Linked DNA regions of Homo sapiens. The protein of the gene in region 4 purifies or fractionates together with the protein of the main gene of each other region. This does not show direct contact. Each region holds a gene or a part of one and is shown on either strand. Other genes may lie near its edges.

Region 1 (4,010 bases), on a different chromosome or scaffold from region 4:
AACTCAAGCCTATTTTGACCTCCCAGTTCTCACAGGCAGCAAGCAACAAACCTTATCCATAAATCAGGATGGCAAAAATTTTGCCTGCAGTTTCTTATAAAACTAAACATGCAATTGCCATTTGACCCAGCAATTGTACTCTTTGGCATTTAGAGAAATGAAAATGTATGTTCACACAAAAACCTGTACACAAATGTCTACAACATCTTTATTTGTAACAGCCAAAGACTGGGAGCAACCCAAATGTCCTTTGAACTATGGGTAAATGGTTCAATAGAGTTAATCTGTGGTTAAACAAACAATTAAACTGTTTTATGTACATACCATGAAATAACAGCAAAAAGGAATGCACTATTGATACAATACACATAACACTGGATAAAACTCCAGGAAATTATACTTGGTGAAAAAAAACAACTCCAAAAGGTTACATACTGTATGACTCCATCAGCCTAACATTTTTGAAATGACAAAATTTTAGAAATGGAGAACAAATAGTGCTCCAGGGATTGGGGACAAGGGAGAACATGATGGGGGAGATGGGTGGGGCTATAAAGACCGAATGAGGGATCTTTATGAGGAACTGTTCAGTCCCTTGACTGTGGTGGTGGATACATGAACCTACATGTGAGAAAACTGTACAGAAATACATCTGTGCTCTCATGCATGTGCACACACAAGTACAAATAAAATGACACTCTGATCTGTGGCCTGTATCAATATATACTGTTGTGATAATGTACTACTGTTCTGCAAAATGTTACCACTGGGAGAAATTGGATAAAGTGTATGCCAGATCTCCCTCTATTAGTCCTTTTCTGTTTATTTTTTACACAGGGTCTGGCTCTGCCAACCAGGCCGGAGTACAGTGTTGCAATCTCAACTCACTGCAGTCTCAACCTTCCAGGCTCAAGCGATCCTCCCCAACTCAAGCCTCCCAAGTAGCTGGGACCACAGGTGTGAGCCACGACGCCTGCCTAAATTTTGCATTTTTTTGTAGAGATTGGGTTTTCCTTTGTTGCCCAGGCTGGTCCTGGGCTCAAGAGATCTGCCTGCTTCAACCTCCCAAAGTGCTGGGATTACAGGCGTGAGCTCACACCTGGCCCCTCTATTAATTCTTAAACTGCATGTAAATATACAATTATCTCAATAAGAATTACAAGTTAAAAAAAAAACTTTCCTGCCCAAAAGCTGGGTTTGATAATCTTCTATATTCCTTTCATCTCTTAAGACCTGCAAAATTCCCAATGTCTCCAAAGCCAGTCTTCTTTCCACCATACCACACAACAGCTTCAAAAGCCAAAGCAAAATTAACTCTTGGCAAAGGGAAACTAAGAAAGTAAGCCACCATTTCATAGAATTCTGCATTGCTAGTCATTTTACGTCCCCTCTGAAAATCACTCCAATTTGCTTTTTTCATTAAACTGACTTCTGGCCAAAAAAAATGGAAAATGTGATCCTATAAAACGTTCTTGCTCACCAAATAATCTCTCCCTATCTATGTGCCACCTCCACAACAAGAAGTAACCAATATACAAATTTCGGTTCTGAATCCTCCTTGGAAGCAACAGCGACAATGGATTATTGGTTCCCAAATGGTCAACGGAGCACAGGAAACAGGACAGTGGGTTAGGAGCTGAGACAGTCCCTAAATTCAGGCGTCACCTTGGCCAGGTCATTTAAACCTGAGTCTCGCCTTTCCCATCTATAGAATGGGGATGTGGAACCTCCTTCGTAGATTACAGGAACGATTTAGAGATAATCTACGTGCCCGGCACTGGTATTTATTAGTTCATTAGTAGTAACAACCGAGCCAAGCTCATTTTATGTGCACCTGGCCATGAAGTTCCCATTCACAGCCTTAGAATCCCCTCCTCACCGAGGTTAATGGATAACCCAGAACCTTCCCCACCTGGACCTCTCCTCTTTCAAACACCGCACAGCTCATCTCATCTCATCTCATCTCATCTCATCTCATCTCATCTCATTCCATCCCATTCCATCCCATCCCATCCCATCCCATCCCAACCCACCCCCACCAAAAGGAAAACAGACCAGCCTCGGGATCGGCCACCTCCCCAGCAGCCCCGCTCTTGGGCATCTCTGCGCCAGCCCGACTCGGCTGTTACTATTATTACTATTGATGAGTAACAACACCTAACGGTGCGTGGGAGTGGCCGGCTCCCAAGGGAGGCCTGAGGAACCCCAGCCCCGCGCGGCCCAAAGCCCCTCAGATGCAGATTTCGGGCTAAAAATCCCAAGAATATATACAACAGCTTTCCCGACCGGGGAAAGGCGCGAGTTGTGAAGTTTCTAGAGCGCATTTTTCCCCGTTTCCCCGAGTCGCTCCGCAGGAGCGATGCTGCCTGCGGCTGGGGGTGTGGGCACCGGGGTTCGCGACTGGAGGCCCTGGAGGTCCGCAGCTGGGCTGGTCCGGGTCCTAGGGCGCCCGCTTCCCAGCTGAGCGCGCAGGAGGGGCCCCAGGCGCCGGGGCGGGGTCGCCGCCTCACTCACCTTCTGTGCTTCTCTTCGCCTCCCGGTAGCGCTCCCACAGGTAGCGCTTCATGTCCGGGGCGGTCCCGGGTGCAGTGCACAAGGGCCGGGCGGGGCCCGCACACGGCCGCCCCCGAGCCGCGGTCCCGCAGCCACCCCGCAAAGCCGCCGCTGTCGCTGCCCTCGCCCCGGCCCCGCGTGCCACCACCGCCGCCGCTGCCATGGTCATGCCTGCTGCCTGCTGCCGCCACCGCCGCCGCGCCGCTCTGCGACTGCTGCTGCCCGGCCCAAGATCTACCCGCGCTCTGCCCTGCAGGAGGGCAGCTCCTGCGTCGGAACACGTGGCGGCGCAGGCCTGCCCTCCCGCCGCTGCGGGGCGGGGAGTGGGCGGAGCCGGAGGCGGGGTCTAACGGGGGCGGGGTCGATGGGGAGTGGGCGGGTCTGGGACGGGGGCGGAGACGGGGCGGGGCGGGGCCGGGCCGGGGGCCCCACGCCCAGCCTGCTGCGGTCAATTTCAGGGTGGCGCGGGGGTGGCCGTGTGGTGTGGTGGCGCGCAGGCCACATGGGATGGAATGATGAGGTACGACCCCAGCGCCGCCCGCCCAGCTCCGCCGCACCTTCGTCCTGCCTTCTGGGACTGACCCCCAGCTCTGGCCACAAGGACAGCGCCCCTCCCACCCCAGCTGCTCTGGCCCCGGCCCTAGAAGGTGACCTCTCTCCGCATTAATGGCCTCTGGCAGTCTAATTAATGGCAGTCTGGACCTCCCCTGGATCGTGGGGCCCCTCTGAGACGTCCCCGATCCCCAGCTTAAATTTATCCAGGAGGACCTGTGAGTGGGTGGCTGGGCCGAGGTTCCACTCATGGGCTGATGTCGGCTGGAGGATCCCAGCCCCTTAAGACCTCAGTAAGTTTGAAGGGCCCTCCCATTACACAGCCTGGAAGGCCAATGCCCGCCCCCCGCCTAGGTTTCCGCCTGGCGGCAGAGGTCATTGGAACATGGTCACCCAGCTCCTGCCCCTGCCCACGCTAACGGCTCGGTGCACAGGTCTTCTCTCAAACCTGCTAGGCTCCACCCGTCCTGTGCCTGTGGTTCCACTAAAGCCAAATGAACCGCAACCTCCCTGCCTGGGGGCAATTCTGTGTGGACTGAGTCAGACAGAGCTTCTGCAGGAAAGACTGATGTGGCCCAGCCAGAACCCTGCTGAAAATCGCCGGGCAGCAAGGACTTCCCAAGCTGTCCTGTGGTTACTTAATTTTGAGCAGGTGGAGTAGGGGGAATGGCCCTCAAGGCTGGCACTCTGCCAAGGAGACCATACTGGCTTGTGTGAAATGGGTGGAACACAGTTTAAGACAAATAACCCAAGGCATTAGTGTATGCTCCAGTTGTGGGATGGAGGGGTCTGGAGGTGTTTCATGGAAAAAGGTGGCATCTGGGTTTAAACTACCATTTATTGAAGGCTTGCTGTATGCAGTATCTCATGTAATCCTCTCAGTAATCCTGAAAAGCAGACTCCAT
Region 2 (3,500 bases), on a different chromosome or scaffold from region 4:
TCAGAGGAACTGAGCAAGCTGAATTAAGAACCTTTAAAATAACTTAAGAAAATATGAGTATACATTTTTTTTTCCACTCAAGAGGTTATGCTGGCCTAAGTTTGTAAGCAAAGCTTTTTTTTAAAAAAAGTTGTGAATTAATTGCTATAATAGAAATTGTTTTGACAGGTGAGAGAGTTATCGTTTAATGTTTGTATTTTTCAGGATTAAACGGTGTTTTTAGTTACCGTTAGTTACTACATTTAATTTTTCGGTGAATCATAGGCATTTAATGTTTTTTAAAGAGATACACTAAAATTTAATTTTTTTTTCTCTTTGACTAATGACAAAATTTAATTTTTAGGCAGTTAATATTAGTGAACACGAGTATAACTAAAATTAGAGGGTATTTCAATTAATTGTCTTTCTGAGACGAAAGACTAATTTTTATTTGAGACCGAGTTTCGCTCTTGTTGCCCAGGATGGAGTACAATGGCATGATTTTGGCTCACTGCAGCCTCCGCCTCCCGGGTTCAAGCGATTCTCCTGCTTCAGCCTCCCAAGTAGCTGGGATTACAGGTGCCCGCCACCACGCTCGGCCAATTTTTGCCTTTTTTTTTTTTTTTTTTTTTTTTTTTTTTAGTAGAGACCTGGGTTTTCACCTTGTTGGTCAGGCTAGCCTCGAACTCTTGACCTCAGGTGATCCTTGCGCCTTGGCTTCCCAAAGTGCTGGGATTATAGGCCTGAGCCCACGCGCCCGGCTGAGATTGCAATTTTTGAACTCTTTACCAAGATGGCCTAACATCATAACTTGTCAGTTGCTTATTTTGAACCAATTTTTTTTTTGCTTAAACTGTTGAATCCTGCTAGCTCCCATAGAGTGAAAGTGGTAGTAAATGTAAAATAGAGTTTTTTTTCTCTGAAATTGATATTAGAGAGTTCAGTGTTTCCCTTTGTTATAATAGACTAGGTTATATGTGTTTTCTCTGTCAGACCTGTGTGTAGTAATTCTAATTGAGTGTCTACCTTGATTTATAAAATCGGTGAGAACATTCCACACCCTTTCACTTGGGAGAGCATGTATTTTGTTCATTCCTCAATTCAATGACTTTTCAAGTTGCTTAACAATATGCATCTTAAATAAGATTAAGTTGAACTGGAGTCAAACGATCATTCTTCTAGAAAACTACATAATATTTATTATTTGTGATTTTTTCTTTTTTTGAGACGGACTCTTGCTCTGTCGCGTGCCCAGGCTAGAGTGCAGTGGCGCAGTCTCGGCTCACTGCAACCTCCGCCTCCTGGGTTCAAGCGATTCTGCCTCAGCCTCGCCAGTAGCTTGGATTACAGGTGCCCGCCACCACGCCCAGCTAATTTTTTGTATTTTTAGTAGGGACAGGGTTTTACCGTGTTGGTCAGGCTGGCCTTGAACTCCTGACCTCAGATGATTCACCTGCCTCCACTTCCCAAAGTGCTGGGATTACAGGCCTGAGCCACTGCGTCCAGCCTTGTTTTCTTCTAAATTGCCATTACTGATATTGTTAATCTAAGCAGTAGTGTTAGGATAAAGATTACTCCAGAGATCAGAGTTTTTAGCAATTAACTTTAATCTGTGAATAGTCTATAACATTTGTCAACTTTGCGTACAGCAGTTCTTCAAGGACAGATTTACTTGAACGTTTTGACAGATATTTTCAGTATTTTATTTTTCTGGAGATTGGAATAAATAGTTGCATCCGTTGGTAATTGGAACTATTGCTGGACGCTGCTTTTCCCCAGAAGTTAACACCACTTTTCCTTTTATCTTTTCTACTCTTTATATTTTGCTTTTTTGTCCCTTTCTAAACTGTAGGTCTAAAAATAATAATCATAGTGGCTAACATTTATAGATGATGATGGTTTTTTTGCTGTGTAATTTATGTGGCATATTTTAATTAATTCTTAATCCCGTGAGGAAAGTACTATTATAGTCACTGTGGTACTGATGAGAAAATTAGGATTTAGGGGGGCTGAGACTGGGAGAAAGTTACTTTGTTAGAATTGTAATCTTGACCAAATAAATGTTCAAGCAGTCTGACTCCAGAGCACATACTCAGCACTATGCCATACTTACACTGCCTTCTTGGGGATTTTACTTTACTAATTCATTTATTTGAACATTATCTTTGATATTTTTTTCTTTTCATGTACTGCTTCTCTTTGGTTGATGTTGATTACAGACTGCTAATGGAGTTTGGAAATAAACTAAGAGATATTACTGTTTTGCTATTTGCAGTAACTATTTGGGTGATACCTTTGGTTAGCTAAAATTGTGTGTGTGTGTGTGTTTGAGACAGGGTCTCGCTCTCTCACCCAGATTGGAGTGTAATGGCACGATTGTAGCTCAGGCAACCTCGAACTCCTGGGGTTAAGGGTTCCTCCTGCCTTGGCCTCTCAAAGTGCTGGGATTACAGGCCTAAACCACAGTGCCTGGCCTTGTATTTTTCTTTCACCCATAGCCTGTTTCCACAGGCATGGAGCTAAATGCATAGCTTTGTTTTACCTTGTCTTTTTTTTGTTGTTTTTTTGGGTTTTTTTGAGACAGAGTTTCGCAGTTGTTGCTGAGGGTGGAGTGCAATGGCGTGATCTTGGCTCACTGCAACCTCTGCCTCCCCGGTTCAAGCGATTCTCCTGCCCCTTCAGCCTCTTGAGTAGCTGGGATTACCCGCATGTGCCACCAGGCCTGGCTAATATTGTATTTTTAGAAGACGGGATTTCACCACGTTGGTCAGGCTGTTCTCAAACTCCTAACTTCAGATGTCTGTCCACCTCTGCCTCCCAATATGCTGGGATTATGGGTGAGAGCCACTGGGCCCGGCCCCTTGTCTCTGTTTTTGAATTGAAATAGTTACATGGATTTTTGTGCTTGAAGCTGCTGATATGTTAAAATTGAGGAAGGGAGGAGTAATGGGGAAAGAACAGGAAGAGTGAGCAGGAAAAAAAAAACTGGGGAGAGTTACAAGAAAGGGGTAATTGAGGAGGACTTCTAATCTGAAAGTAAAATAAGCAAGTGAGGATAGAGTTTAAAACCAGGCCAGATTATTTAACTTTTTTTTCTGAGACGGAGTTTTGCTGTCACCCAGGCTGGAAAGCAGTGGCACAATCTCTGCTCACTGTGACATCCGCATCCCGGGTTCAAGTGATTCTTATGCCTCAGCCTCCCAAGTAGCTGAGGTTACAGGTCCCCGCTGCCATGCCCAGCTAATTTTTTGTATTTTTTGTAGAGATGGGGTTTTGTCATGTTGGCCAGGCTGGTCTCGAACTCCTGACCTCAGGTCAGATGATCACCTGCCTCAGCCTCCCAAAGTGCTGGGATTATAGGCGTGAGCCACTGCACCTGGTCAGATTATTTAACTTTGTTTAACCAAACCATCTTTTCTGTTTCTTTTTTGATAAAAATGTTTATCAAATGTTTAGGTAACAACGTTTAGATCTATCAATGTTTAGGTAACGTTTAGATCCAGGTAAGGTACTGATGTAGA
Region 3 (3,500 bases), on a different chromosome or scaffold from region 4:
TTTGCCTGCTCTGGCTTTGCCTTCTGCCATGAATAAAAGTTTCCTGAGGCCTCCCCAGCCATGCTTCCTGTACAGCCATCAGAACAATGAGCCAATTAAACCTCTTTTGTTTATATATTACCCAGCCTCAGGTATTTCTTTAGAGCAATGCGAGAACAAACTAATACACACCATTAAGTCTAATTAATTCTGCTGCTTTCATCCCACTAAACCTCTGTAGATACCGGAATCACAAATACCTTCTTCAAGGGTCTCAGGAATTTTCATTCTAGCAAGATGAGACAGTAAAAGAACTCTGGCCTTCAGGCTATATGGGCAGGTAAGTGGAGGCTCATTCTTCTTTAAATTAATGCTGCCAATTTCTCTGATTAGCTAGAATAAATAAAATAATTATTCAAAAACACGCTTTTTTTAAAAAAAGTATTCACTTTAATACTTAACTGCTCATCGGGGGATTTGGGAAATTAGCCTAACCTGTGGTATTAGAATATTATCCGTTGGTCTGCTTGTGGCATCTTTATTATACTGAGGATCAAATTCAGAAGCTCCAGCCAAAACCATGATAAGACCTAACAAAACAAAAGAAATATGAAGGTAAATAAATATGCTCATTCATTAATTCCCCCTCCTGAGATACTTAATTCACTTGAAAGTGAAGCACTTTTCTAAACATGCACAATGCTAAAAATTATCTGAACTCCACTGACAAGTATTTATTTCTTCCATAAAAAAAGTAACATCTCGCTTTTTAAAATGTACACAGTATCAACCACCACAAGTGAACAGAAGTATAGATCAAATAAAGCACACCAAAGCAACTGGAGGCATTAAAATCACTGAAAGTTCCACAGAAACTTTCTATAGAACATCAGTATTCTGTGTGGTATTAATAATTCACGTGAAAAAAGGGGGCCCTATGATTAAATAAAGCTGAAAATAATGTAAACAAGAGTTAAAGGTTTCTTTACTACATGACTTCTCAAGGCCTTTTGTAAACCTAATATGCATTATAATTTTCCAAAAAAATTTTATTATGGAACCCAAGAGGATTTTGTGGAAATACACATGATTAAAACCCTCAGGCCAGTGGTGGCTCACGCCTGTAATCCCAGCACTTTGGGAGGCTAAGGCAGGCAAATCACAAGATCAGGAATTTGAGACCAGCCAGTTTGAGACCAAGCTGGCCAAAATGGTGAAACCCCATCTCTACTAAAAATACAAAAATTAGCCAGGCATAGTGGTGCACGCCTGTAATCCCAGCTACTCGGGAGGCTGAGGCAGGAGAATTGCTTGCACCCAGGAGGCAGACGTTGTGGTGAGCTGAGATTGTGCCATTGTACTCTAGCCTGGGAGATGAGAGAAACTTTGCCTCAGAGAAAAAAAAATCCATGTAATGTACTCACAAAAGGCAGGATAGTATAGAAGTTAAGTGCACAGACCTTGGTATTTTGTCACTTCCTAGCTAAATGACCTAGGACAATATTCTTCATATCTGTGTATCTCAGCTTCTTCATATGTGCCTGACACACAGCAAGCACAGTACTTGTGTGAGCTATTACTATTACTACCCTCAAATGTTTACTTAATAACAACTGTTCCTAAAACAGCTAAAATAACCTAGAATGTGTAAAGAAATCCACCAGCTAAACAATGCTTCTCTGACAAAGCTGTGTAAGGATACCACCCTCAGAAAAGAAACAGAAATCAAAATGATTGAGGCAAAAAGCACACTTAAAATTATAAACATGAAACATTTTCATAAGGGAGTAAGTTTCTGTATTAACATTTCAATCCAGCTTTAGGAAGAGTAATATTTTCGATAAGGCAAAGTAGTATTAACTCATTCAGAAATGTAAAATCTGTTCACACACAGTCATATATGACCATGAGAAGTCTCTCTCATTACTAAGAAAATTAGTAAAATTGCCAAATCCAAAATGCAGAAAAGTCCATTTTGGTCCCGGAGACACAATTCAAAACTTACATTCTTTTATTTTATTTTTTTTTAAAGAGGGATGGAGGAGCAGCTATGATTTTTGCAGAGCCATCATTCTGAAAGGTAACACTCTATCTCCCAAGGATAAACTGCAAAGTTTGCTTTATATAATCAAAGAAAGTGAAAATAGTATTTTTTTTCTTAAATTTTTAAATAAGAACTGGGAATGAAATACTCTAGCACTAGTTTTCTTTCAACACACCTAAGACTTTTTATTTTTACTACAATTAATACACTATAACATAATGGTTTAAGGCTCAAGAACCAGACTGCCTGGGTTCAATCCTGGATATCACTTACTGTGTATCCTTGAGAGTGTTACTTTTCGGTGCCTCAGTTTCCTCATCTATAAGATGTACTGTAAAACAGCACTCACTTACGAGAACACAGCAAAAATTAAATGAGTCAAGACACATACAGTAACTAGCAGTGTCTGGCATACAACAAATAATAAATGTTAGCTAGAATTACAAAATTTGCACGCATAAGGATTATGGTAAAATTTCTGATGAAATATATGAGTAAATGTGAATAATGAAAATATAAATTAAGAAATGTGACAAAGGGTGCTGGCATTTTTCTCTAGCTTTAATTATATAAATTAACTATTTATAAAACTGTACAATAGAATCTCAACAGTATAGAGTTAAGGAATATATATCAACCCCACATAAGTCACAAAACAATGTGATTAATAGCAAAGTTACTTAAAGTTTACTTACGTTTCATATCCATATTTCGGGTTTTATAAACAAAGTATGTATAAATCTGTGTTGTGCGTATTAGAATCTGGTCTCCACTATAGCGTATTGAGCGATACCACCAAGAGCCCTAAAACACAAAAAAAATTAAACAAGAAAGAAAGTATAAAAACTACGATAGGCTGGGCGAGATGGCTCATTCCTGTAATCCCAGCACTTTGGGAGGCTGAGGTGAGAGGACTGCTTGAGCCCAGGAGTTTGAGACCAGCCTGGGCAACATAGTGAGACCCTGTCTCTACAAAAGAAAAAGAAAAATGCAAACATTAGCTGGGCATGGTGGCACATGCCTCTAGTCCCAGCTGCTCAGGAAGCTGAGGTGGGAAGATTGCTAGAGTCCAGGAGGTCAGGGCTGCAGTAGCCATGATCATACTACTGCACTCCATCCTAGGTGACAGAGGGAGACTCTGTCTCAAAAAAAAAAAAAAAGCAAAACAAAACCCTGATAAATGTTAAGTTTGAGGCAGAATATGTTTATGGTCAAATCTTCTAAATATTCATAAAACAATAAAAATACCTGAGTCTTACAACAAGGACCTCTTTCTTGCATATTTCAAGTGATTTCTTTAGCAAATATTTATACTGTCTGAAGCCTAAACACCAACCTAAGTCACTGCATATATATAATCAAAACATTTACCATTTTGGATAGAAATACCTTAAAGACCAAAAAGGGATAAAACTACCCACTGCTATAAGCACCAAGCTGGTTCTTGACACACAGCATGTCTTCAATAAATACTTGA
Region 4 (4,062 bases):
ATAGGCCATTTTAAGGACTTTACCACCTGGAGCTTGTAACCTAATAGGACTGTGAAACATACACTGGTAGCATCCTGGCACCAGTGCTGGGGTGAGTGCCACAGGAGAGGAGCCAAGTGCAGTCAGAGTAGAAGGACTCAAATAGAAGAGATCACATCTGGTTGAGTCAAACAGTAAACGTCCCCAGAAGACACTGGAAGATGCAGGCTGGAGAGAGCTACACTTTACATACAGCACGACAGTATAGAGATATTAATAGCATACAGTCACTTCAGGTAACTACAAGTAATTTTAAAACATCTGAATAAGTGCTTCTTTGTTGTCTGTGGAGTGCTACACAATGCTTCGGCCTAAACGTCAAGCAACACAGAAAAGAAGCCCCACTTCATTTGCAGCCTCAGATAGCTTACGAAATTGAGACACCACCTGAAGACCATGACCCATACAATCAAAGTGACTTCATGGAAGACGAGTAACTGCAAAACCCTGTGAAAACAGATTGTTAACGCTACTAATGAAAAGAACTGGATTGTTACGGGAACCTCAAACTGTCCTTTGATCAACGGACATGACGCCTCAACACGCATTTTCCAAAGATCTCTGCTGATAATTCTGACCTTCGGTTAATTTAATTAATTTCATTTGATTTAATTCATTTTAGTGTTGTCCTCAGTCCCGCACTCAAAACAGATTTTTATTATATGAAAATCTTCCTAGTCACCTAAAAAATCCGCATTCTATGGAAAAGACTATATAATTTTTCAAGAGATTCTTTGCAATTTTCACCTATGCTGGTTTATGACCTAGTTAGAGAAGACATCATAGGGCATTATTTAGGTAATAAAATACAGAGAGAAAAGAGCCACTGGCATTTCTAAATAACGTTCCTGTGTTTCCTACTGTAAGTATAGGAAAGTAGGTGTTCGCAGATGCAGAGAAAGGGCATCTCCAAGGCCTCGGAGGAAACTTTTGATTTTATAAATAACTTGATGGTGGAAGGCAAACGCCATCCCGGTTCCCAAGCAGGCTCCACGCAGCCTCCATGGCCGAGTCCATCTCCTCGCCGTCCTCTTCCCTCCTCCCGGCCGACTTCCAGCCGGTGCGGGAGTCGGGGTGCGCCCGGCCCTCCTAGCGCTGCGCCGCCCGCGCCGACGTGGCGGAGCGCACAGGTCGACCGGGTCAGGTGGTTGGGTGACGCCCCAGGAAAGCGCTCCAGGCCGAGGGCGGGCGGCGCCGCCGCGCCCGACGCCTCTGGGGGTGGGGACTTCGCGGGAGTCGCCGGCGGAGGCGAGGAGGAGCTCTGCGCGGCGCGGCGGGCGATCCGAGCCGGGACGGGCTGCAGGCGGGGGTGCTGCAGAGGACACGAGGCGGCGGGCTGGAGACATGGACCGCGGCGAGCAAGGTGAGGGCGCGGACCCAGCGGGCTTGGGCTCGGGCTTGGACTCGGGCTTGGACTCGGGCTTTGGCTCGGCGCGGGGCTGAGCGCGGCCCGGCGGCTCGAGCAGGTGCCGAGCCTCCTGGGCCGGCGCCGCAAGTTGCATCTCCCGGATCCGGATCTGGCATCCTGGGGCCCTGGAAGGAGCGGCTCTGGCGGGGGCAGATGGGACTGCATGTGTGAGTGTGAGTGTGCGTGTGTGGGGGAGAGGGAGAGAAGGTTCTGGGAGGTGGCGAAGGGGCTAGCGTCAGGGGCTGGCGGCCGTGATGCGCTTTGGGTGGAAAGCCGCGTGAAGGGAGCACGGCGCAGCCAGCTCCTGTAAGTGACTGGAACCAGGAACAGAGGACAGTGAGTCGCTCTCGTCCCTCCAGGTGGGAAACCCCTCTCTCCCTCATAAATTAAGACTTTCTGCCTTCTTCTAAGTTCAGGTGGTTAGGATTTTTGGTGGCGTATGACCCATGGGGGGTTTGGGAGGCAGATATTTATCATACTAGAAACCCCCAGATTGTGGAGTGGTGTCTGTGGGTTTGAGGGAAGAGAGCTTTTCGTAGGAAGGGTGAAATCCCACAACACAAAACCTTCAGTCTAATTTACCATAGCGTTGGGTGCACTTGCTTCTGAAAACAGCTCAAGTGAAATTACCCCCAAATAGAGCAATAGTAGGCCATGGTTTTCAGATTTAAATAGTTTCATCCTAGAGATCTCTGCTGATCATAAGCCTGTGACTGTACGCAGATGTGTGTGGCACGCTTTTAAAAAGATACATAAATGCTGAAAAAAGAAAACAAGGTAGGTAATCTTGGGAAGTGAGGATAGGAATCACTCCTGTTTTGAGCCCTGACACAAGTTTTCATGTATTGCTTATTTTCCTCCAGTATGTGCCGTCATGTGTGCATTTTTATGTAAATCAAACCATATTCCAAATATACTATCTTGTACTTTATTTTTTTCAGACTCTGGTGTTTTTTTTGTTTGTTTTTTTGAGTCTCCACCTGTAGCCCAGGCTGGAGTGCAGTGGCGGGATCTCAGCTCACTGCAACCTCTGCCTCCCTGGTTCAAGTGATTCTCCTGCCTCAGCCTCCCAAGTAGCTGGGATTACAGGTGTGCGCCACCACAGCCCGGCTAATTTTGTATTTTTAGTAGAGACAGAGGTTTCTCCATGTTGACCAGGCTGGTCTCCAAGTCCTGACCTCAGGTGATCCACCCGCCTCAGCCTCCCAAAGTGCTGGGATTACAGGTGTGAGCCACTGGGCCAGGCCTGTACTTTACTTTCATTTACTTGTAAGATAGACTCTTTGGAGTCTTTCAGCTCTTTCCTCGCTCCCCTTCAGATTAATTTCAGACTTAACACAAGTGCTTACAAACATTACATACAATATGCTTTATATGTGTTACCTATGTGTATATATATATTATACATTACCTGTATAACGTATATATACACATACATATTATTATCTAAATTTTAAGCTTCTTGAGGTTAGAAACATTTCATCTTTGGTTGTCCTGAGTGGGATAACATGATGACTTGTACATAGTAGACATGCAAATGTTTGAGTTAGAAAGCTTGTCACATGTCTTGTATATATTGTTAGCCGGCTTAGGGGCCACCATGTAAGTCAGCATTATGTCTGTCTGGCTTTCAATGGGGGCGACGCAGGACGGGGGAGACATGACGACAAACGTGCCCATGTGTATTTGTATACTAATCTGTTACACACTGTCGTTTGACATAATGATGTTTTTAGAATAACTATGTTTGGTACTTGTCAAAGTAAATTAAACGGCTGTGTTTTACTTACGTGAGTGGAGTAACTAGTTTTAGTAGTGTTTGTGTTCTAGCTTGGGTGGTAAGAATCAACAGTCATTGGTAGCACTGCAGTATTCCAACTTCTTGTGTAGTTTTTATAGGACTAGTTTAAGTGTCTAATTCTAAGACATATTTTTTTCAAATCTTTATCTTGTAAGATGAGTCTTTTCGTGTCTATAATTTTCCCATATGTTCTTTGGGTGAGGTGGAGGACTCTGCTCCGAATGAAAGAAGAGGCACTGCCTTGGGAGGGTCAGTTCATTTACTCCAAAGCTTTGCTGTGTTAGAACAACGTGGCCAAGGCTGGGTGCGGTGGCTCACACCTGTAATCCCAGCACTTTGGGAAGCTGAGGCAGGCAGATCACTTGAGGCCAGGAGTTTGACCCCTGTCCAACAAGGTGGAACCCTGTCTCTACTAAAAATACAAAAATTAGCTCGGCGCGGTGGCACCGGCCTGTAGTCCCAGCTATTCAGGAGGCTGAGGCAGGAGAATCACTAGAAACTGGGAGGCAGAGGTTGCAGTGAGCTTAGATCAAACCACTGCACTCCAGCCTGGGCGACAGAGCGAGACTCTATCTCAAAAAACAAACAAACACAAAACAAAACCACCTGGCCATTCCTTACTCTTGCTTCCACCTGCCTACCTGCCTTTTCATCTTTATGTTACCAGTGCACACAGTAGGTGCTTAGAAATATGTGTTGACTGCCTAAGATGAGTGAGGAAAGTGTCCAAGAGCAGGCCCCAGCCATAGTAACCTCTGTGTCCCTCCAAATCCATCTCTTGTTTCCCACTTTCTCCTGTTCTGTTTTCCCTGTC

The links. The genes of interacting proteins can lie anywhere in the genome.
Region 1: the proteins of TPD52 (region 4) and NT5DC3 fractionate together in Homo sapiens (co-fractionation; one large-scale study listed by BioGRID). This does not show direct contact.
Region 2: the proteins of TPD52 (region 4) and GPBP1 purify together in Homo sapiens (affinity purification with mass spectrometry; one large-scale study listed by BioGRID and IntAct). This does not show direct contact.
Region 3: the proteins of TPD52 (region 4) and SEC63 purify together in Homo sapiens (co-immunoprecipitation; one large-scale study listed by IntAct). This does not show direct contact.

Annotation. Positions count from the first base shown.
Region 1 is NC_000012.12:103,838,435-103,842,444, forward strand, and holds the start of NT5DC3 (5'-nucleotidase domain-containing protein 3), read right to left. Parts: upstream 2,801-4,010; 5' UTR 2,723-2,800; coding exon 2,515-2,722; intron 1-2,514.
Region 2 is NC_000005.10:57,177,059-57,180,558, forward strand, and holds part of GPBP1 (vasculin), read left to right. Parts: intron 1-3,500. UniProt on the Homo sapiens protein: Functions as a GC-rich promoter-specific transactivating transcription factor.
Region 3 is NC_000006.12:107,906,209-107,909,708, forward strand, and holds part of SEC63 (translocation protein SEC63 homolog), read right to left. Parts: intron 2,828-3,500; coding exon 2,719-2,827; intron 570-2,718; coding exon 475-569; intron 373-474; coding exon 240-372; intron 1-239. UniProt on the Homo sapiens protein: Mediates cotranslational and post-translational transport of certain precursor polypeptides across endoplasmic reticulum (ER). Proposed to play an auxiliary role in recognition of precursors with short and apolar signal peptides.
Region 4 is NC_000008.11:80,168,765-80,172,826, reverse strand, and holds the start of TPD52 (tumor protein D52), read left to right. Parts: upstream 1-1,262; 5' UTR 1,263-1,383; coding exon 1,384-1,402; intron 1,403-1,705; exon of another isoform or gene 1,706-1,806; intron 1,807-4,062. Other genes in the region: TPD52-MRPS28 protein, read left to right, coding at 1,384-1,402.